2 linked regions of the Homo sapiens genome follow. The protein of the gene in region 1 purifies or fractionates together with the protein of each later gene. This does not show direct contact. Each region holds a gene or a part of one and is shown in the gene's direction. Other genes may lie near its edges. The genes, in order: FNDC3A and HNRNPD.

Region 1 (11,086 bases):
GATGTTCTGAGCATCTTTTAAAATGTACATTAACAAAACAGTATTCAGAAACAAAGCTAAACCGGAAGCCTGAGAAGAAACAGTTATGGTCGGACATGAAATTTAGTAACAGACTTTTGGTAAATCATGTCAAATTGGGAAATTTACCAAATATCCTATTTTTCTTAATCTGATGAAAAACAGATTTATTTTAAGTGACATAGAGTTCCTGGCATCAAACTTTTGGGGTAACTTATCACTCCTAAATAATGTTCATAACTGTGTTTTTATACTAGTTTGTAAAACACTTTAATAAGGTATCATAAGGTAGTATAAGGTTTATCTAATAGTTATTTCCATTTTAGGTTTGTATCCCTATACAGAGGACCATGTCATACATACAAAGTACAAAGACTTAATGAGTCAACATCCTATAAATTCTGTATTCAAGCTTGTAATGAAGCTGGGGAAGGTCCCCTCTCCCAAGAATATATTTTCACTACTCCAAAATCTGTCCCAGCTGCCTTGAAAGGTAAGTTATACATCCTGAACTTATTTTCTTTATAATAAATTACTTTTTAATGTATTTTCATAAATGCTTTGTTTACTGATATTAAAATTTAGCATCCAGTATATGTCCACCAGTTATACAAAATCGTATAGGCAAGCCCAACTCTACTGAGAGTTCCACTCAATAATAAAAGCTGTTTTATCTGGCACGCTCATATTCAGACAAGTACTGGCTTTTGTCACTGATGTTTTTAATAATGTAGCATAAAAATACTAAATTGAATAGGAAGGCTGGTTTTCTAATGAGGTCATTTGCTTAAAGAAAAAAATCACAAACTCTGGTTGTTTAAACGTTTTGAGTTATTGATATTACATTCATTTGGATTTCAGAAGGAAAGCTTGGTCATCTGTTAAGCAAAACAAATTCTTCATTAATGTGGGTTTTTCAATTAGTTTTACACACACATGTACACATATTTACACACATTTGTATATACATTTATCTTTTAATTTTAGAGGGGTTCTTATTTTAAAGTGACTCTGGCAAGGGCTACACTCTATTTTTAGCTGAAAAGTCTATAAAGTTAATTGCTCTGAAGACTAATCACAGAGACTTCTAGAACCATATCCTAGATCATGTACTTAAACCTATCATTTGTTAAACAGCAGAACTCTTCTTGACTAGTCTTTCTAATAATATTGAGTTTCACTGAGTCATTTTTCTGTTTGCTCATCAAGTTTAGTGTCTCTTAGCTTTAAGAAGAGTGCTGACTATAAGCAGGGCACAGTGGCTCACACCTATAAGCCCAGTGCTTTGGGAGACTGAAGTGGGAGGCTCACTTAAGGCCAGGAGTATTGAGACCAACGTGGGCAACATACTGAGACCTGCCTCTCTACAAAAGAAATTTTGAATCAGCTGGGCATGGCAGCATATGCCTGTGTGTGTAGCTGCACAGGAGGCTGAGGCTGCATTGAGCTATGATCGCACCACTGTTGTCCAGGCTGGGTGACAGAGTGAGATCCCATATCTTAGAATACAAGAGTGCTGATTTTAACCTCTTTGGATGCAAATTTCAAAAATTCACTGATACTTATTTCAAGTTTATAAGTGGATTTTAAATATTTGTTGATTTTTATTAAGACAAGTGTCTGCATGATGTACCAAATTAAAAATCAAGTGGAACAGATATTATTTATATTTGTTTCCTACAGCCCCCAAAATAGAGAAAGTAAATGATCACATTTGTGAAATTACATGGGAGTGTTTACAGCCAATGAAAGGTGATCCAGTTATTTACAGTCTTCAAGTTATGTTGGGAAAAGATTCAGAATTCAAACAGGTATGTACCAAGATATTAATGTGTGGATGCATATTTTTACCCTTTTTTAATTTTTATGTATTTTCAGTGTAAGATTTGGCCATCTTTACCTTTTAATTCATAAATATTTATTCAGTATATATTATGTTCCAGAGATCTCAAGATTCCAAATCTTTTCAGTATGAACTACACTTGAACAGATTATTCATTTATCTGATAAGTATTCATTGAATTCTGTGCCAGGCACTCAGGATATAGCACTGAACAAAAAGTCCCTTGCCTCCATGGAGCTTACTTACATTCTGGTGGAAAAGAAGACACTATAAGCAAGTAAACATGACAATATATTGTCAGATATAAGTGTAATGGAGAAAAAACAAAATTGGATAAAAGAAATAGGGAGTGGAGGGGGAGGGCACTGAGTGTTATTTCATTTGGGGCACTCAGCTGACATTTCAGCATGGCCCAGAGGAGATGACTATGGAGAGAAGAGTGTTCCAAGAAGATACGCTGAGGCAGGAACATGCCTATTAAATCTGATGAACATAAAGGAGCCAATATGACTGGATGGAGAGAGCAAAGGGAAGAGTTGATAAGGTCGGATAGTTAATCCTAAGGGGCCTATAGGTGGTATGGAGTGACGTAAGGCATAATAGGCCATACTGTGGCTTTTACTCCACGTGAAATGAGAAGACAGTGGAGGATTTTGACCAGGGTATTCACGTGATCAGACACAACGTTGTTTTGACTATAGTGTTGAAACTACAGTAGGACAAGGGCAGAACTAGAAAGACTAATAAGGAGGCTTTTACAATAATAGTATTAATAATAGTCATAATGCAGTGCTGTAAATATGACATTAGGCATGAAGTTATAATGGAAACCTAGAGGAATTGTCACCTTCCTAGCCAAGAGGTTTCAAAGATAGCTTTCTGATAAAGCAAGAATAGCAGTGAGATAGAGTGGAGTGTTGCCAATGTTTGTTACAACTTTTAAAAAGAATAAGCTTTTATACCACTCCAAAGACTAATTAAATACCTATACATTTCACCTGATTTTCCCTTTTTCCTGTAACCTTAATTTTGAGGGCTTTTAAGCTGGGTTGTTTTCATTGTGTCTTATATTTTCCTCTTCCACTAAAAAAAAGATCCTTCATTTGTTTTATTCCAGTATTGTGCTATTGTAACCACTCTATGTAATATCTTAACTGAAATTACAAAAGATCCAAAGAGTCAGATTAAATCTGGCATGCAATTGTTTTTCTTTATTAAGCCATCTGCAAATTGACAGGATAATTAGATTTGAAATGTAATTTACAGATAAGTAGGTTTCCTTCTAAGGAGGAAGCAAAATTAATATTAAAGAAAATATAATTGTATTACACGTTTAAAGGAAATAGGGATTCCACATTTGAGTAGTATATGAATAACCTTAAGGCTTGTTTGAATGACTTTTCTTGGGTGTATAAACCTTCTGAAATTAGCTTGAGCAGGTTAATCTGTTTTCTTCAGTCCTGTATTTACAGTTACCTGTGTCTCTTCCTGCTTAGAGGTCTTCCCACATCTGAAATACAAAATTGAAAACTTGATCCCATCATCTTCCCTCCCAGTATCTCCTCTCCAACATCTTTACTTCATCAGTGTCATAGACACCAATATCATCTTGGTCTCCAAGCTTTAAATTCTTAGATGAATTTTTTTTTCCTATCAACTCTTAATCAGAATTTGTTTCTAAATCCATAAAACTACATCAGGGCCTCATCACTTTTTACATGTACATCAAGAGTCCCTGTCCTACTCAGCTCCCTTCAGTCCTTCACACAGCCTCACGATTAGGATTCCATAAACACTGTTTTAATGTCACACACCTACAGTGGTCCCTTTTGAATTAACCTAAATTTCCAACTAGTGTAATTAATGTATTCTTCCTCTTTGTACCAGATCTCTTATCACCCTCATGCCATTTGTTGAGGTTTTTCTTTCTTAACCTAATACTGCCAGGCTCATGGAATGGTATATGAAGACACATGGAAAGTATAAAGACAAAAATCATCTATTATATCCATAAGACAAATACATATTTTTAATTTTTACTCAATTTACTTCAGTGTTATGTATACAATTTTACACTACTTTATCATACAACATTCTGTTTTAAGTGAATCCTTTTACAGGTTGAAGCATCCCAAATAAAGTCCAAAATTCAAAATGTTCCACCCAAAATCTGAAACTTTTTGAGGATCGATATGACACTCAAAGGAAATGCTCATTGGAGCATTTCCAATTTCAGATTTTTGGGTTTGGAATGCTCAACTAGTAAATATGCAACTATTCCAAAATCAAAAAAATTGAAATGCTTCTGGTTCCAAGCATTTCTTATAAGGGATACCCAACCTGTACCATCTCCCAAACATGGATCATTTCTACATTCTATTCCCTGAAACATTATGCATCCTTAGAACTAATGTATAGTCACCATTTTCTTTCAGATTTATCTTAAAGCTTCTTTCAGTAAGTTCCTTTATATATTGTTATCAGCATCCACATTTTTATTTATTGCCAATAATTCACTAATTTAATGTCCTTTTATTAAGTACCTACTATATGCTAGATTCTGGAGACAGAAAAATGAGACAGAGATCTTACTTTACTTTGAGAGCAAAGCAATATGTAAAAATTTAGATTTACATCACAGGTACAATTGAGGCAGCTAAAAGTACTTGAAAGCCCCCATGTGTTGGTTCTTCTGACTTGTAGCCCACCAACTAACTGGAGAAACTCAACTGACAAGTCATTTAACCCTATGAACCTTGGTTTTCTCAATTACAGAATGAGTGGTGGGAGGTTGCTCATTATTGGAAATGATAGCTCCTACAGATTGAGCAGTGACTGCATGCTGAGCACTGCGCTAAGTGCTTTAACAAGCATTAGTTCATTTCATCCTCATAATTATCATACATGTTAACTACTAGTATGTCTGTTATACTAAGGTAGTTGGTCTAAAATCACATCTGGAGTGTGAAGTGGTAGAGCAGACCTTGGATGCCAGGGGTGAACAGTTCTAGTATATAGCTTCTTATTTATGCCTAGTGTTCCATTATTGGAACACTAAGCTTGTGGTAGTTATTTATATCTCACTGATCAAGGTTATTGCCAAGGTCTGATTTTTCACAAAAAAAAAATTTGCAACCTCTGGCATAAATGGGTTAATTACTAGCACATTCCTCTGAAAATCCGTGGAATTTCATTCTTTTTATTTCCCTTGTGAGGCATGGCAGAGGAGGTCCTATTTTCTGATTCTAAGTGATCTCCCCTCTCTGGTTTATACAGTGATTTGCCATAGGCACCTATAGAAAGCTCCCCTTATTCATTTTCCATTTCATTGTACAGATATGTTTGAAATTATATGGAAATTTATCAGTTATACAAAGACATAATGGGGGAAGCAAAAGTAGACACTATCCCTTCTTTGATGGAATGATTGCATTGAAAAATGACTTCTTACATTTGAGAAAAGCAAGAAAATGCTTGAGGACCGATTTTGCTTGTTCTCTAGCTGCCCTGGGGCACATCTGCACTCCTTAATTCATCTGTGAACCGTATAAGGGTAGATCCTCGCTTTTGAAATTTCTCTTGCCCCTATGCAACAAACAGATAAGTACTTTAATGGACAGGTATTTTTAACATGTCATTTAAAAGATAAAATCAATGGCATTCACTGGCTTTCACATGAAAAACAATTCTAACACTAGCCAGTTTTAACACATTTTCTGTCCAGCCTTCACACGTAATTCTTCCTTCTAATATTTTATTAACAGATTTACAAGGGTCCCGACTCTTCCTTCCGGTATTCCAGCCTTCAGCTGAACTGTGAATATCGCTTCCGTGTATGTGCCATTCGCCAGTGCCAAGACTCTCTGGGACACCAGGACCTCGTAGGTCCCTACAGCACCACAGTGCTCTTCATCTCTCAGAGGACTGAACCACCAGCCAGCACCAACAGAGACACTGTGGAAAGCACAAGGACCCGACGGGCACTGAGTGACGAGCAGTGTGCTGCCGTCATCCTTGTGCTGTTTGCTTTCTTTTCCATTTTGATTGCCTTTATCATTCAGTACTTTGTAATCAAGTGAAAATATAACTTTATTTTTTAACTCTATTACATTTTATTTTGTCATGTACTAAAATTATTTCTGTATTGCTTTTATAAAAAACAGTGGCATTTAGCACTGGCATTGAGACTATAGCACATCATTTTTGCCATTTTCAGTGCTTATATTGTTAGGTAGAGGCTGGCACTTTATTAGAATGCAAGCCACAAAAATATCAATTTTGTTTTTTTTGTTAGGGTGGGTCTTCTTTTTTTCTTTCCCTCTCTCTTTTTTTAACAAATGCCTTCTTATAGAAAAACTTTCTAAGAGGCAACAATTTAGAATGGATATTTTGACGAATCGGCATGAGTGTAACAGTGATAACCTGATCTGTTTGTTTTAAAGATTATTACCAAGTGAAAAATTCAGAATGAATAGAATTTACACTAACATGCTATATAAAATGTTAAAGTCTGATGCTGTGAAAGCAATCTAGTGCTATATTTCTACCTCCTCATTTGTCTTAATTATTTGGTAAGTGGGATTATGATGAGTAACTGGAGGGGCTTAGAAACAAAAACTGGATGAAAGAGTATGCATGAAGAAAAGCTTCTTTGATAAATGTGGAGTTCTTCATTATAAATATATATTCATGAATTCACAGATAAGTACTTAAAGAACAGACAGTTTACTTGGCCTAAAAATATTTTGATGTTTACTCAAAAAGTACCTCTTCAGGTCTTGAGAACATGGAAAAGAATTGAGTGCTTTTAAATACTTTTTAGAAAGTAATCATAAAAGTAAATTGAATTTCAAACCTATTTGGCTTCTGTTTTGTGAACCTTTGAACTATATGTATGTGTATAAGGGTATACACATACATATATGGCATATAACAAGTGTACACATATACACATAACAAGTGTAGAAGTATATATTACATACATACACTCACTCTGTCTGGTATAGGCTAATTTTGAAGAACTCCCATAAGTTTCTGCTGCTTCTCCCATAACTGCTGCCACCACCATCAGAATTCATAATCAAACCTAACCTTTTTGTTTGGGGCACCAAATCTGAAGACAAAATTAATTTGCACCAGTAAACTTCAAGCTGCTTTCTTTCTTGAAAACTAAACGTTTAACGTATAATGTCTGTTTGGATACTGTTCCAAATTGTTGATTGCATGTGGTTAATGTTGCATTAGAGCACTTTGCAATTGCATAATTCATTAATGTTTTGTGAGCTTGCATTTGTGAGTTATTGGATGATCAGACTGAATTTTGTCAAGTATCACATTGTACATCTTGCCTAGATGTCGATGACTGCAAGTAATAATACAGTTTATAATGAAACTATCTACAATTCTTGTTTTAGCACATCTGTTATCCGTAAAACACCTGTAACTAGCTTTTTTAATTTATTATTTGAATTTTAGGATAGCGAATCACTAATTTTTAGTTGCTGAGGTTGGCATTTTAGTGATTATTAAGCACTTCTGTCAGTCTTTGAAAAAAGAACGTATTTTTTGTGCTTTGAAGATCTCTGAAGAATTTCTTTTATAATAGAATGGGCATGTATTGTAACAGTTTTATGTCAAATGATCTGTGCTGTAGAAAAACATTAACCCTTGTTCAAAAAAGAAATGGATAAACTTGGCCTTTCTAAGTGGTAAGAATGACCTGTCACTATAATATACTGTATGTTTACATTTTATTTAAATTTAATCTCTTATGTATAGGGTGATAACCTTCCCCAGAAACAACAGTGATTGCGATTGTTTTCTAGAAACTTCTTTAAAGTGCCACATTTGGCAGTACAAATGAGTCTGAGTGTAATAGCCCAGAGATTTATATATAGTTGAATGTCTAAAATGGTAAAATGTGCCACTGTGTCAAGTTACAGTGGCTTATGTTTTTCATAGTAATTCAAATGAACTTCCTATTTTTGATAGTAAATGTCATTTAATAGTATACTTGCCATTTGAGCCTCACTGCAAAATTAGTGCAGAGGAGAAAACAATTTTTAATGTAATCTTGATTTTACCTCATATACTGTACATTCCAAAAACTCTAAACTTTTTAAAGATTATAGATACACTACCAAACATATCACCTTAAAATTGTATAAGGCTGAATGAACTTCATACAAATGAAAAAAATCTCATAAAAATACATAAACTATGTAGCAAAAGTATCTGTAAAATCCATGGAAAATAAAAGTTGTATCATTCTTTTTGAGATACGTTTATTGTATTCATATATATTCATTATTTGCTACCTGTTTAAGAAAGTGAAATGTTATGGTCTCCCCTCTTCCAATGAGCTTAAAACATTTTTCCCAACAGTATATAAATCTTCAACATGAGAGGATGTATATTTATTATATAAAGCCCAGTAAAGAATAAAATTAGAAGTTTTATCCTAGTGACTTGATTTTGTGCAACTCATGAAATATCTTACTTCCTTTCCACATATAAAGAATACAGTGAGTCTAAGGTAAACTTCCCAGTGGGAAGAAAATCCCTAACCTCTCCTTGCCTTTCCCACATCCCTATTTTCTAGTACCTTCTTTCGCCCACCACCAGAGGCCCAGAACCTTCCTGGTAGTGGCACTGCTGGGTCTGCCTTCCACCAGAAAATCCAACATTCTCTCACTCATCCCCCATTAAAATTTCCATCCCAAGAACTTCCTCCTGGGGATGGACACTCAGTGCCTTTTTTTTTTTCTTTTTTTAATGGGTAAGCTAGTAAATTTTATGTTATAAATATTTTACCACCATAAAAAAATCATTGAAAAATTCACTGAAGAAGCCAATATGGAAAGAGGAGAACTCAATGTTTAAAATAAAGCCAACTTTTTTTTTTTATTCAAGAGGTAAGTACATAGCTTCAAGCTCAAGGTCTAGGTTGAGGACAATCATGAGTCCTATTAAAGGACAACCAGTTTAAAGAACACTGTCAGGCAAGCTACCACGTAGCTCTCCTTCACTCCAGGCTTAGCTGTTCCAGACTTCCCAGTACTGATGAAGGATCATGTTTTTGTTCAGCTTTGCCCAGTGCTGTCATTCATAATAGATAAATGAAAAGTCCCAGAAACCTGTTGTGTTTGGGAAGGTTTTCTTTTGTTCCAGGCTTCAGTGGTTAATATGCTTGACAAATTTCAGAGTCTCTATCTCTGTAGACCAATGCCAAAGAATTGCTTTCTGGATTCACTGTTAGCAGCTCTTCGTCTTCATCTTTGGCAATGTAAGAAAACCACCATATTCTGGCCCCCAGCCTTCACAGCCACAGTGGAGAATTAAGTCTAGGGCAAAATCAGCCTTGCCATGGTCACGAATTAAAAGTGTGGTGACCAGTCTTCCAACGCCTCAGTTCCCTTTGGCATGTGGGAACACCTGATTCATTCTTTGTTTCATTTTCCTCTGACTCGGTCTGTCTGCTCATGGCTCTGTTGGCCGTTGATGCTGATGGCTGCCTGATTATTCTCTGGCTCAGGAGGGCTATGGCCAGTCCCTTCCTCAGTTCTATCAGCAGCAGAGGCTGCTGCTTCCTCTTTTTTGTCATCCATCTCATCTTCCGAAGGGGCCAAGAAGTGAAGCTTCAGGCCTGTGAAGTTGGAGAGCAGCAAGAATAGTGCCTCAGAGCAAAATAACTTCATGCACTCCTTCAATATATCAGGAAGCTTACTCTCCTCAGCTTTCTCATAGAATCATCTTTTGTTGGCCAGGCACGGTGGCTCATGCCTATAATCTTAGTACTTTGGAAGGCCGAGGTAGACAGGTCACCTGAGGTCAGTAGTTCAAGACCAGCCTGGTCAATATGGTGAAACCCCTGTCTCTACTAAAATAGAAAAATTAGCTAGGCATGATGCCAGGTGCCTGTAATCCTAGCTACTCGGGAGGCTGAGACGGGAGAATTGCTTGAACCCAGGAAACGGTGGTTGCAGTGAGCCGAGATTTAAAATTTAAAAAATGATAATAAAAAAAAAAAAACCTTTTCTTAGGGGGACCTCAGCTGCTCTCTTCCACATCTCCATTCTCCAAGGCCTCACAGACCTTTGCAAATTTCTCAGGCTTAAGAAATTTCTTAGGAGAATTTCAGAACTTTCTTCAAACTCTTCTTGAGTTTGAATTTGGTAATCCATGTCCAGATAAGTAAGGTTGATCCAATCAAACAATTTCATGTTCTTGTGGGGTGTGAGGGCTCCAAGATATGAGGGGGTTCAAAGTAGTTGGGAGGCCTAGTCAGTGAAGGACCATGAAACCAGCCACTTATAGACAAATGTGACTTCAGACAGGACTTTGGACACCTGGTGAAAGGACACTGCAGATACTTCAAAGAAAACCAGTTTGTTCCATAAAGGGGTAAGAGACGACAATCTGCTTCGGTTGAAAGTGTTCATCAATGTTGTACAGGTCCAGGATACCCTCCAGGCTCCTGTCCCAGGAAAGAACCAGGTACAGGATAAAGGCGATCCAGCGCCCTTCTAGCTCATCATCATGGCACAGCAGGGCATCAGTGAATTCATATTTAGCACAGGACACATCGATGGTTGGTTCCAGTAAATTTTAGAAATGCCAGAAAGCCAGGACCAGAAATCTTCAAACAGAATTTTCCTTAAAGCAGAGATGTGAGGCCCTCTTCTTTAAATCATCAGACTGCTGGAACTTACATAAATCATTATACTTGTCATGGAAATCTAAGTTCATAAGTTCCTTCTGAAGCCCTTCCAAGAAGTCGTCTTTGGATGAAGTTTGGGATCATGCAGTGAAGAAAGGGGTCCATGTCCCTGACAATGGCTTCGTAGCTCCAGGCCTCAACCACCTGCTTTTTCAAGGTTTCCTCCATGACGGCATCTGAAAATTCCGCCATCACCTCCTTCTTTCCCTTTTTTCCCACCCGGGTCCGGCCGGGCTCCACTGGCCGTTTCATCTCCTCACAAGGTACAGAGCCACGCCATATGACTCAGTGCTTTTAAAATCCATGTAGATCTCTTAATTGCCACAACTCCAAGGACCGTGATAGAGTTTAAAATGTTGGGCTGGGGAAGGAGAGTCCGGAAATAGGAACATCACAGAAGCAGCTAAGCATGAGTCCAGGTTTGAGTGGGGTATGATACTGATTTGACAGTATGATTGCACGTCACCTCTTTTTTTTCTGTAGATTGGAAATAGGAGTCTTTTGCA
Region 2 (11,086 bases), on another chromosome or scaffold:
ACAATGTTTTCCTTAAGATATGCAAGTTACCTGCTTCTTCGACCAAAAACAAAAAAATTCCAGGAGAAAAGCAGGCAAACAAAAATCTTACTTGGAAAGCCAAATCTTAAAAAGAAGCCCTATCGGCCCAGCGGCGATAGACGAAAACCTCAATGTCACCCGGTCCCGGGCGGCGACGGCAGGGAGAGTAGCTGCGGCAATCAGTGCGCGCGCGGTCCGCTGCGGCGCCTGGCGCTCCGCGGGCGTCCGGGTGGACAGCGCCAGGGGCACAGGGCTGACATCTCAGGGCTAATTCCCTCCTCCAGTGCGTAAATCCAGGCTTAAGCCGCCGCAGGGTGTGAGCCTCCCCTCCCCCACCCGAACGCCGCAGCTGCACGGGGCACGACAGCCTTCGCAGAGGTGCAGCCACACCCCGGCCTAACGCTGCTGCTCCCGCCGCTACTGGAGTGGTGGGGAGGGGTGAGTGGACTCCAGGAATCCTCGGAAGGGCGGGGGCGGAGGCAGGGGGCCCCTCTAGCCGCTACTTCGAAACAGCACTCCTTGTTCTCGATGGTCCCCGCGCGACTGTCTTAGCTCACGACACTTCCGGTTCCTTTTAAAGGCCCCCAAGGCTGTGCAACGCGGAGCGTGAGAGGAAGGTATAAAGGGTAGCGAGAGGGCGGGACCGAGGAGGAAAGGGAAAAAAAAAAAACTAGGGGGATAGGGGTGGGGGGACGCGCGAAGGGCGCGCTCTCGCGTCACGTGACCGGGACGCGCCGTTCTTCCGTCGGCCATTTTAGGTGGTCCGCGGCGGCGCCATTAAAGCGAGGAGGAGGCGAGAGCGGCCGCCGCTGGTGCTTATTCTTTTTTAGTGCAGCGGGAGAGAGCGGGAGTGTGCGCCGCGCGAGAGTGGGAGGCGAAGGGGGCAGGCCAGGGAGAGGCGCAGGAGCCTTTGCAGCCACGCGCGCGCCTTCCCTGTCTTGTGTGCTTCGCGAGGTAGAGCGGGCGCGCGGCAGCGGCGGGGATTACTTTGCTGCTAGTTTCGGTTCGCGGCAGCGGCGGGTGTAGTCTCGGCGGCAGCGGCGGAGACACTAGCACTATGTCGGAGGAGCAGTTCGGCGGGGACGGGGCGGCGGCAGCGGCAACGGCGGCGGTAGGCGGCTCGGCGGGCGAGCAGGAGGGAGCCATGGTGGCGGCGACACAGGGGGCAGCGGCGGCGGCGGGAAGCGGAGCCGGGACCGGGGGCGGAACCGCGTCTGGAGGCACCGAAGGGGGCAGCGCCGAGTCGGAGGGGGCGAAGATTGACGCCAGTAAGAACGAGGAGGATGAAGGGTGAGTAAGGGGCATCCCAGGATAGTCAGGCCCAACTAGTCCCCCTCCCCCTCTTTATTCCCCCGCCATTAGGCCTGGTTCCCGCTCTCAGCCCGTTCTCCGGGCCCCCATGCAGCCTCCTTGCACTGGTCTCCCTTTTTCTATGTTGGGTTCCCCGGACCTTCATTTCCTTCTTCCTTTGCCTGCTTATCGCCCCCCTCCCCCATCACACACGTTTCCACCTTTAGCCGTCACCATGCTGCTCCTCGGCCCGCCCTCCTTTCCTCCCTCGCCATGGGTCTCCTCCCACCGACTTAGCCGCCAGGATTTTTTCCCGCCTGTCGTGGGGTACCTTTTTTCTTTCCATGCTGTCCCCTCTTTTTCCCTTTTTCTACAGTCTTGGGCATAAAAACACAGACACAAACAGCTTCTCTGTTTGTATTACTAAGGTTTATTTGGTGCTTCTCCACCATCCTGAAACGATGCGATTGTTTATAAGCACATGTTTTGGGGAACGCGTAGGCTGTCCACCTCTGCCTCTCCCTTGTCGGCCTTAGGCCGACTGTTTTCTTGGGATTTTGAATAAGTTTCGCCTAAGGATTTACTCATTTTCTCCACCATACGCTATCGCACAATGGCATACTCATACAGGCCCTACATTTTGACATGCAGACCAAATTGGGTCTGGTGAAATGCTCCGAGTTTCTTGTTGGTACATTGGTTTTGCTCCGCGGGCTCTGGTTAAGTTCTTAGTCGATCGGGCCTGCACTTGACTGGAGCTGTTCCTATCTCCGGCCTAGCATCTACCCTTCCCCCACCCCACTGAGTTATTCTAACCGCGCACCCTTTTCGCGCCCTCAGCTATTGGGTTCCCCAACTGTTAGTACAGATTGTACCTTACTTTTTATGTGCAACCTAATTTTTTACAACCCCCAGCCCCCTTTTTTTCCCGGTGCCCAGGATCCTATTTTGGTGTCTTGATATCTGTTTCCCGCCCACTAAGGGAGGCCTGTAGTCCTCTTAAGAGAAACAAATCCTGTATTGTGCTATGGGATACTTTTTTTTTCTTTTTGGTGCAAATTTCTTAGTATTAACTTGCTTCCTCCAATTGAAATAACAGTTGTATATACTACCTAAATCTGCATTTAGTGTATTAAAATGCAGCATTTGGGATTGGGAACATAATACGGGAGTTAGCAGGAGGGACTAAATCAGGTTTCTTGGTTGAGTTTTCTTAGCTCCGATTACTGACCGATGATCGTGGGTTCACGCTTCCATTCCTTTTTGTAATGGGGAGGGGTGTGTGTGTGTCTGAATTTTTTTTTAACTGTAAAGAGAAAGGTGTTGGTGGATATAACAAGATGTCGCTTTAATCTAGTATTAGAAAACACGATTTCCTTTACTGAGAAAGAGCCCAGGATTTGGAGGGAAAGTTGGGAGGGGAGAAGCACTTTGGAATATAGGGTTTATTAAGCCCAGCCTAGGCAGATTCTTGTCAGGCTGTTTGATGATAGTGCTGGTTTTGGGGGAGTGGTGGTGGGAAGGGAAGCAAACTTTTAAAAATTAAACAGAACCAACTCGAATTGTATATAGCTTATTTGAGAAAGGAAGATGTTAGATATTTGGAAACTTAAAACCTTTAACATTTTGGTTTTCGTTTGCTGAATTCTGTTCTTTGGACAGAGGCACCAAAATGATTAATTGTATAACTTCCTGTTTGGGGCAGGCTTTCTGTTAGCCCTGATAATTCAAATCGCAAAGCAGCTGACTTTATAGTTACCTACTGTTGAAGTGTAAATGAATTAAAGTTTTTAACCCTAACAGTGTCAAAAACTAAAACTAGAATTTTGATTGGTTGCTGTACCGGTTGTTAATTCCCTAGCCATTCAAACTCCTCCCCACGACACTCTGAAGCAGCGACGGCACAGCGGGAAGAATGGTAAAACTTTTAAATTTTATTTCTGTATTATAAAGGTTTCAGTAGTCATAATATGTAGAGGCTGTGTATTGGTTAGTTGCCCATTGATCCCCAGGAAATTCTAGACCATAGTACATACAGTAGGTTTGTACCTGGGATATATACCTTTTATAGGCATCATGTGTAATCTTTGGGCAAAATTGATGCCGTTACATGGTATTTGGTCTGTGGTAATGCATGTAGTTGCAGTTTGGCAATTTAAGCTAAACAATTAGTAACGATATTTTTATATCGAGCAAGAAAAAATATTACCGTAATCTTCACATTTGATTTATTTTAAGATGAAAAATATTTTTGTTGGAATTTAAGTTTAATGGCTAAATATGAAGACTCCTTGATATAAAATATTGTGTTTAAAATGTCATGCATGTTATACTGAAATATTCTGGAGATGTCTGAAGCAGTTCTTTAAGCAGCACTGTGTATTATGGAAAAATGTTTGTCTTTTACCTAGCATATTTGTAAATAGACCTTTAATAAGAAGTGTGTGTGTGTGTGTGTGTGTGTATATATATACCATTAAAAGGTGGGCTAATGTGGCTTTCCACTACAGCTCTTACCAGATTTTTTATTTTCAGTGTGATTTGGCTGGAATATTAATAACAGTTGGTTGACATGTATTCACAATTGCATGACTTCTCTTTGGAGGCTGGTAGGTTGAGTATTGTTCTTTTTATCCATCCTTTCCCCTCCCCTAAATGTCAGTCTTTCTGCTTTTAGGATTATATTTGAATTTTCAGGGGTTTATACACCACCACTGGAGAGTAGAAGGCCACTAACTTGCAGGCAGTTAACTTATATCTTTACAAGCTACATTCTATTTTAAGAGCCTATTTAGGGTAACATTTAAAGATTTGCTTATCACTGTATTCTCATCCACTGAAATCAGTCCAGCTTTACCTTGGAGAAAAAGCAGATGGGAAACAGGCAAGGGGAAAAGCAAAAAAGAGGAAAAAAAAAAGACTGGGGTCACAGTTTCGATGAATGTTATTCCCTGTATTTGGTGAGTGGTGGGCACTAGCAGCTCAATTTCACTGCTAGCTAATAGTGGCAAATTAAGATTAAACTATAAACTATTTGACATTACTCCATTATGTATTTTGAGTCTCATGTAATTGTTTCCAGTGATTTGAAATGACCATAAACTTAAATTTGAAGGTCAGTGTTTTGACTCTTCGAAGTAATTACACTTGACCTGCTACCTAAAACGATGTAATATTACAACTTTTTTGAATAATCTCAGGAAAAATGGAGAAATGTTTATATTCATAGTTAATAAACATTCTAGATAGTAACCAACTGTCATTTACTGAAAATAAAATTTTACCCAGGTTTATTTTATTTTTGAGACGGAGTTTAGCTTTTGTTGCCCAGGCTGGAGTGCAGTGGTGTGATCTTGGCTCAGCGCAACCTCCACCTCCCAGGTTCAAGCAATTCTCCTGCCTCAGCCTCCAAAGTAGTTGGGATTACAGGCATATTCCACCATGCCTGGCTAATTTTGTATTTTTAGTAGAGACAGGGTTTCTTCATGTTGGTCAGGCTGGTCTCGAACTCCCGACCTCAGGTGATCCGCCTGCCTCGGCCTCCCCAAGTGCTGTAATCACAGGCGTGAGCCACTGCGCCCGGCCTAGCCAGGTTGATTTTAAAATTACACTTAAAAATAATGTTCTCATTTTTAAGGGCTCTAATATTTGACTTTTCTTAACTTTCCAATTATGCAGCCCTATCCTGTTCCAGACGTTAAGGCTTTCTTTTTGAATGAAAAACTTTCAGACTTTTTTCTCTCTCTTTTTTTTTTTTTGGTGTCTGCACTCCCCACCGTATCTGTCCCTTCCTCTTTCTCCCATTTTGAGGGATATTATAAGGGCAACAGTTTTATAGTCTCAATATTGAGGGTAAGACTGGTTAATAGAGTATCCAAATTGAATTTATTAAACACAGTTCTGTGTGCATTTCCTTCTGCAAATCTGAGAATAAAGTGATTACAGTTTCATCCTAAAATACTTTAAAAATCAGTTGGTTTTAGAAATAGGTTTTTTTCCTTTTGCATGTAAGAATGGACAGCTATTTTTAGGAAGGCATGCCTGTTACACCTCTAGTGGATGTTTCTACAGTTTACTATGGGACTTTAGAATAAGTAATTATTTCCATAGTATGCCCTCCTGAGTTCACTTTGATTTACTCTTTCCCACATTAACATCCGTAGTTTTTACTTATAAGCATTGGAATTTCTCATTTTACTTTGTGGTGTGGACCCATTCTGTTCTCTGCAGTGCTGCAGTTCATTTGGGGTAGGTACTTTAAAATTATTTAGTGTCTGGCAAAATATACATGCCATGTAGCAAGCTCTCTGAGGGCAGAGTTTTTAAAGTTTAAAAATCAATGGAAACTACAATGTTGTGTTAACTTTGAGATAGTTTTACAAGGTAGGTACATAGACTTTCCTGCATTGGATTGGGTAGGAAGCAAAAAAGTCCCCCCATTCACTTAGCCAAAGTCCAGCAATGCTTCTTTAATAACAGGACAGTAGATATTGTCCTGTTAATGGTTAGTGTATAATGAGCCCAAGTGTGATTCTTCCCATTTGGGAATTCTGTGAATCCTGCTGTAGGTTGTTGCCTGTCTGATTATAAAAGACTAGGCTCATGTTTTTGCTTTAAATGTTTGAGATTATGGTCTTATACCTTAGTGCTTCTGGGGCAATCTGAACATTGTTTGCTTTGTAAAATAATTTCTTTTAGAGTAGTCTCATGCCAAATTTACTGGCCTTTGATTCAGTACAGTTGGGTTTACTGTATGTAGTAAAGTTGAGACCCTGCGTAGATTGGTCTCAGTGTTAGCATTCTTGGGAGCCTTTGACAAATTTCCCGAGTTAAAAATTCCAGAAATTGATGTCCCCAGATCTTTAGATGAACATTTAAGCGAAGAGTATTAAATACTTCTCACTGTAAATTTTCATCTATTATGAAAGATACTAAAAATAATCTCGTTTTTTAAGTTTGGAATTGGGAGAATGTCATTGAAGTTTTTCAGTGCTTGTTTTTGAGATACACATACTTTGCCTTAAATCTGGGGTTTTTTCCCTTAAGCCATGTGACCCTTTCTACAAACTCAGTGTATGTTTTTAATATTTCCTGGGTACTCTGCTATCGTCCTAATACATAATATTAGGGTAAGGCTGCCCTAATACGAGAACATTTTGAGTATACTATTGAGTATACATTTGAGTATACATATTGAGTATACTATTTATGCCAACGTGAAGGATGTGATTAGTTTTAGCCTTCAAGTCATAATACATACCATGCTTGAAAGCATTTAAAAAGGAATAGAGTAATTTTTTTTCCCATTCCACTTGGAAGCTGTGTACCTCAAGTGTGTGCACATTTACAAATGGGTGAAACATAACTTATGTTAGTCCAAGCTTGATTTGACTTCAGTTCTGCTTCAACGTTTTAGTAGATAGGGCACTGAACTGGATGCTGAAAGCGTGGGATCTCTTTCTGTTGCTTCACTTCCAACAGTGTGGTTTCAGGTAATACGACATGTTTGTTACTTGGTTTGCTGATCTATGTGTTGGAAACAATGCTCACCACAGGAGGATTGACTACATAGCCTGCTTTCATAGCTTGTGTGTATTTATCCAGTGCCCTAATAGTTGATACTGCCAGTGATTTACTCCTGTGGAGTAAAGGTAAGCATGTTTTAGTTTCTGGAGTATTATATTGTACGTTGGAGCTAGGTATTTAAGAATATTTGGGGGTGGGGAGGGAAGACTCCAATTTACTGGTGGTGCTTGGCCAGTAATCAAGGTGACAGTTTAAGTATTGGGTCTTGCACTGTAAACTCCTGCTTATCTAGACTTCAGACTACCACAGAGCCCACACAGCCAGGAAGTCTGTCTCCCCATTTAGTCTTATGAGCAAGATAGATGAAGCCATGAGAAAATATACTCAAAAAGCAACCAACAGACAATGTCATGGAATGAATCTCCTACAGATTTTTCCTTACACTTTTGAAAAGTAACATGATTTTAAAACGTTGGAAAATTCATCAAGGTACAAATCATTTTCTGACTTCAGCATTGATACCTAAATTGATTTCCAGTACACAGTTTTATAGAATTGTGAATATGTAGTAATCTCAGTTAACCAGAACCTTAACCTTCAGGTTAAGGAAAATACCTATTCCTTAACCTCTAGGTAAATGGGAGTTTACCTTACAAAGCTGATTGAGAGCTTATTTAAAACGTAAACATACAAGATGTCATTGCTTCCTTGTAGTGAAGTGAAAAGGAGGTATTGGATTAAGCATTTAAAGTTAATTAAAGTAGTGGCTCGTGCCTGTAATCACTGGCTACTCAGAAGTCTTGAGGTATGAGGATCATTTCATGCCAGGATTTCTAGACCAGCTAGGCAACATAATATGACCCCTGTTTCTTTAAAAAAAAAAAAAAAAAAAAGGCTAGTGTGTTGGGGGGTGTGTTTGTAGTTGTAGTTACATCTACTCAGGAGGCAGAGGCAGGAGAATGTGTTGAGCCCAGGAAGGAGCTCAGGGCTGCAGGAAGCTATGATGGAGCCACTGCATTTTGATAGTGAGACCTGGTCTCTTAAAGTGTTTTATTTTTAGGCCAGGCGTAGTGGCTCACACCTGTAATCTCAGCACTTTGGGAGGCCAAGATGGGTGGATCACCTAAGGTCAGGAATTGGAGACCAGCCTGGCCAACATGGCGAAACCCCAGCTCTACTAAAAATACAAAAATTAGCCAGGTGTGGTTACATGCGCCTGTAGTCACTCAGGAGGCTGAGGCGGGAGAATCACTTGAACCCTGGAGGCGGAGGTTGCAGTGAGACAAGGTTGCACCACTGCATTCCAGCTTGGGCAACAGAGCAAGACTCCGTCTCAAAAAAAGAAAAAAAAAGTTTATTTAAAAAACTGTCATGTTGGCCGGGCGCGGTGGCTTATGCCTGTCATCCCAGCACTTTGGGAGGCTGACGCAAGCGAATCACCTGAGGTCAGGAGTTCGAGACCAACCTGGCCAACATGTTGAAACCCTGTCTCTACTAAAAATACAGAAATTAGCCGGGCATGATGGTGGGCATCTGTAGTCCCATCTACTTGGGAGGCTGAGGCAGGAGAAGAGCTTGAACCCGGGAAGCAGAGGTTGCAGTGAGCCAAGATCGCGCCACCGCACTCCAGCCTGGGCGACAAAGCGAGACTCTGTCCCCCTCCCAAAAAAACTGTCATGTTTCATTTATTAGATGTTTATTTTTTCAACTTCGCTTTTTAGTAGTCATTTAGTTAGGTTCATTCTAAAGTGTGAAGTAATGAGATTTAATACAGAGAAGTCTCTGAAAATGTTTGGTCCATTGTATATTAGTCTTGAATAAATGGAATTCTTTTTCACACTTACCTTGAAAATGTCATCTGTAGAAAGCTGGGGGAGAGGAATACCTATTCTTTAATGATGGGGAAATAATACCAAAATTTATATTTTTATTGACTAAAGTGTTTTTTGGGGAAGATTTGTTATTGGCTAACCTTAATGTCTCATTAGTTTTAAATAGTTAAAAAAAGTGGGCTGGGTGCGGTGGCTCACGCTTGTAATATAGCACTTTGGGAGGCTGAGGTGGGCAGATTGAACCCAGGAGTTCCAGACCAGCCTGGGCAACATGATGAGATCCTGTCTCTACAAAAAAAAAAAAAAAAAAAAAAAATTAGCTGGGCCTCGTGGTGTGCACCCATAGTCTCAGCTACCCAGGAGCTTGAGATGGGAAGATTGCTTGAACTTGGGAGGCAGAGGTTGAAGTGAGCCAGGATCACACCATTGCACCACAGCCTGGCAATAGAGCGAGACTCTGTCTCAAAAAAGTGGTTTTCATGAATTTTATACCAGATCAGATCTAAAAAGGCTGGTTAGTATTTGAACTCGATGAAAGCTTGTCAAGCTCTCTCCCAAGGTAGTTTTCATACAACTTGTAAAATACCCTAACGTGTGATATTATCTAGTTGCATTGTAACCTCCTCCCTTCCCCTTAGGTAACTAGTGACTTAGCTTTAGTTTGTCATTTTAGGATTTTAGAAGAATAATTATGATGGATAAAATACTGGAAAAATTCAGTAAGGATTTAATGGTGTGCTTGAGTAACATTACTTTAAAAGATGACAGTGATTGGTCATTTATGTTTTATACCTGAAATGTATATCAGGTTGACATTCTGTTGTATTTTTTAAACTGTCAGAACTTGTTATAAAGCCATGTATGTAAGATCATAAGTTGTTAGGAAGTGTTTAAAAGTTAAAGGATTGGCTGGGTGTGGTGGCTCATGCCTGTAATCCTAGCACTTTGGGAGGCTGATCGCTATGTCCAGGAGTTCTGTGACTAGCCTGGGTAACAGAGCAAGATCTCGTCTCTAAAAAAGTAAAAATAATACGAAGTTATAGAACATAGAAAAAGAATACTATTCCAAAATTGGGAGTGAGTATAATGGCTAACTTTTTACCTTGAATAAGGTGTTTGACAATAAAGACTTATTAGGGGAGGTATCTTGGAATAAAATAGTTAATATTGACTGGGAATGTTAAAAACCTAGTGACCTAAATAGTCCAGAGAATAAGTTTATTGATGGGGAAAAGCCAGGATTATTAAATCGGAACATTTTCCACCAGCCAGGATTGCTCCATGTATATTTCCTTTTATGTTTTAAATTATTCTTTACTAAAATTACTGGCATAAATGTAGGGTAGACCAAGTCATCAAGGTGATTTTGGAAGCTACATTTAAAGGGTCTTAGTTGAAATACCACCTAATTTTTAGTTTATATATTTTTTTACATGGACTATTTAAAAATTTCTGGGTTATTTCAAGTTGGCAGCATTGAAAATATTAGAATATGTTTATATAAAACTCATTGTGGCCTTTTCCTTTTAATGTTGGAAAGTTTATAAAGCCTATGCAGTTTTAAAAAATTAAGCCATTGAGTAAATAAAAAGTTTGCTTTATTAAATTATGTTTAGATAGTGCTTATAGTGCTTTACCCCTTCAAAATAGTAACTTCTATCAATCATTTAGGATGTGTGTCAGACTATTCTGTGTCCTTTAAGTGTGTTAACTAGTTTTAACCCTCTGCAAATATCTGAGGTATGCTCTTTTTACAGATGGGAAAACAATCTTGGACTTTAATATTTTTTCTTAATGTTACACAATTAGTAAGAGGCAGGGGGCCAGGTGGAGTGGTTCATGTTTGGAATTCCAGCACTTTGGGAGGCTGAGGTGGGCAGCTTGAGCCCAGGAGTTGGAAGACTAGCCTGGGCGACATAGTAAAACCTGATCTCTGCAAAAATATTAGCCGGGTGTGTTGGTGGGTGCCTGTAGTCCGAGCTACTGGTGAGGCTGAGGTGGGAGGACCAACTGAGCCCAGGAGGTCAAGGCTGCAATGAGCTGTCATGGAGCCAGTGCACTCCAGCCTGGGAGACAGAGTGAGACCCTGTCTTAAAAAAAGGCAGCAGTAGGGTTTAAACCCCGGCATTTTGTCTTTATTGCCTCTAAACTTAACTTGCTTTAAAAGATGATAAAATGTCCCACAAAGGAGCCTAAATTCCTGAATGATACTGCATATCACTTGGATAGTTATCTATGCTGAGTTGTATAACTTTATGCTTGTCATTTAATTTTACAATTTGGTGGAAGCCAATGTGAAAGCAAGGAGACTTCTGTTGTGGAGTAGGTGTTTTAAACTGAATACCATATTCAGCCTTGGGGTGCTGAATATTTAGTTCACAGCTAGGATTAAGATACTCAACTATGTTAATAAAATA

Evidence for each region.
Region 2: the proteins of FNDC3A (region 1) and HNRNPD purify together in Homo sapiens (affinity purification with mass spectrometry; 2 studies listed by BioGRID and IntAct, with this or other methods). This does not show direct contact.

The regions. Positions count from the first base shown.
Region 1 is NC_000013.11:49,201,456-49,212,541, forward strand, and holds the end of FNDC3A (fibronectin type-III domain-containing protein 3A), read left to right. Parts: exon of another isoform or gene 1-338; intron 339-344; coding exon 345-511; intron 512-1,701; coding exon 1,702-1,829; intron 1,830-5,625; coding exon 5,626-5,940; 3' UTR 5,941-8,324; downstream 8,325-11,086. UniProt on the Homo sapiens protein: Mediates spermatid-Sertoli adhesion during spermatogenesis.
Region 2 is NC_000004.12:82,363,671-82,374,756, reverse strand, and holds the start of HNRNPD (heterogeneous nuclear ribonucleoprotein D0), read left to right. Parts: upstream 1-765; 5' UTR 766-1,078; coding exon 1,079-1,311; intron 1,312-3,172; coding exon 3,173-3,229; intron 3,230-11,086. UniProt on the Homo sapiens protein: Binds with high affinity to RNA molecules that contain AU-rich elements (AREs) found within the 3'-UTR of many proto-oncogenes and cytokine mRNAs.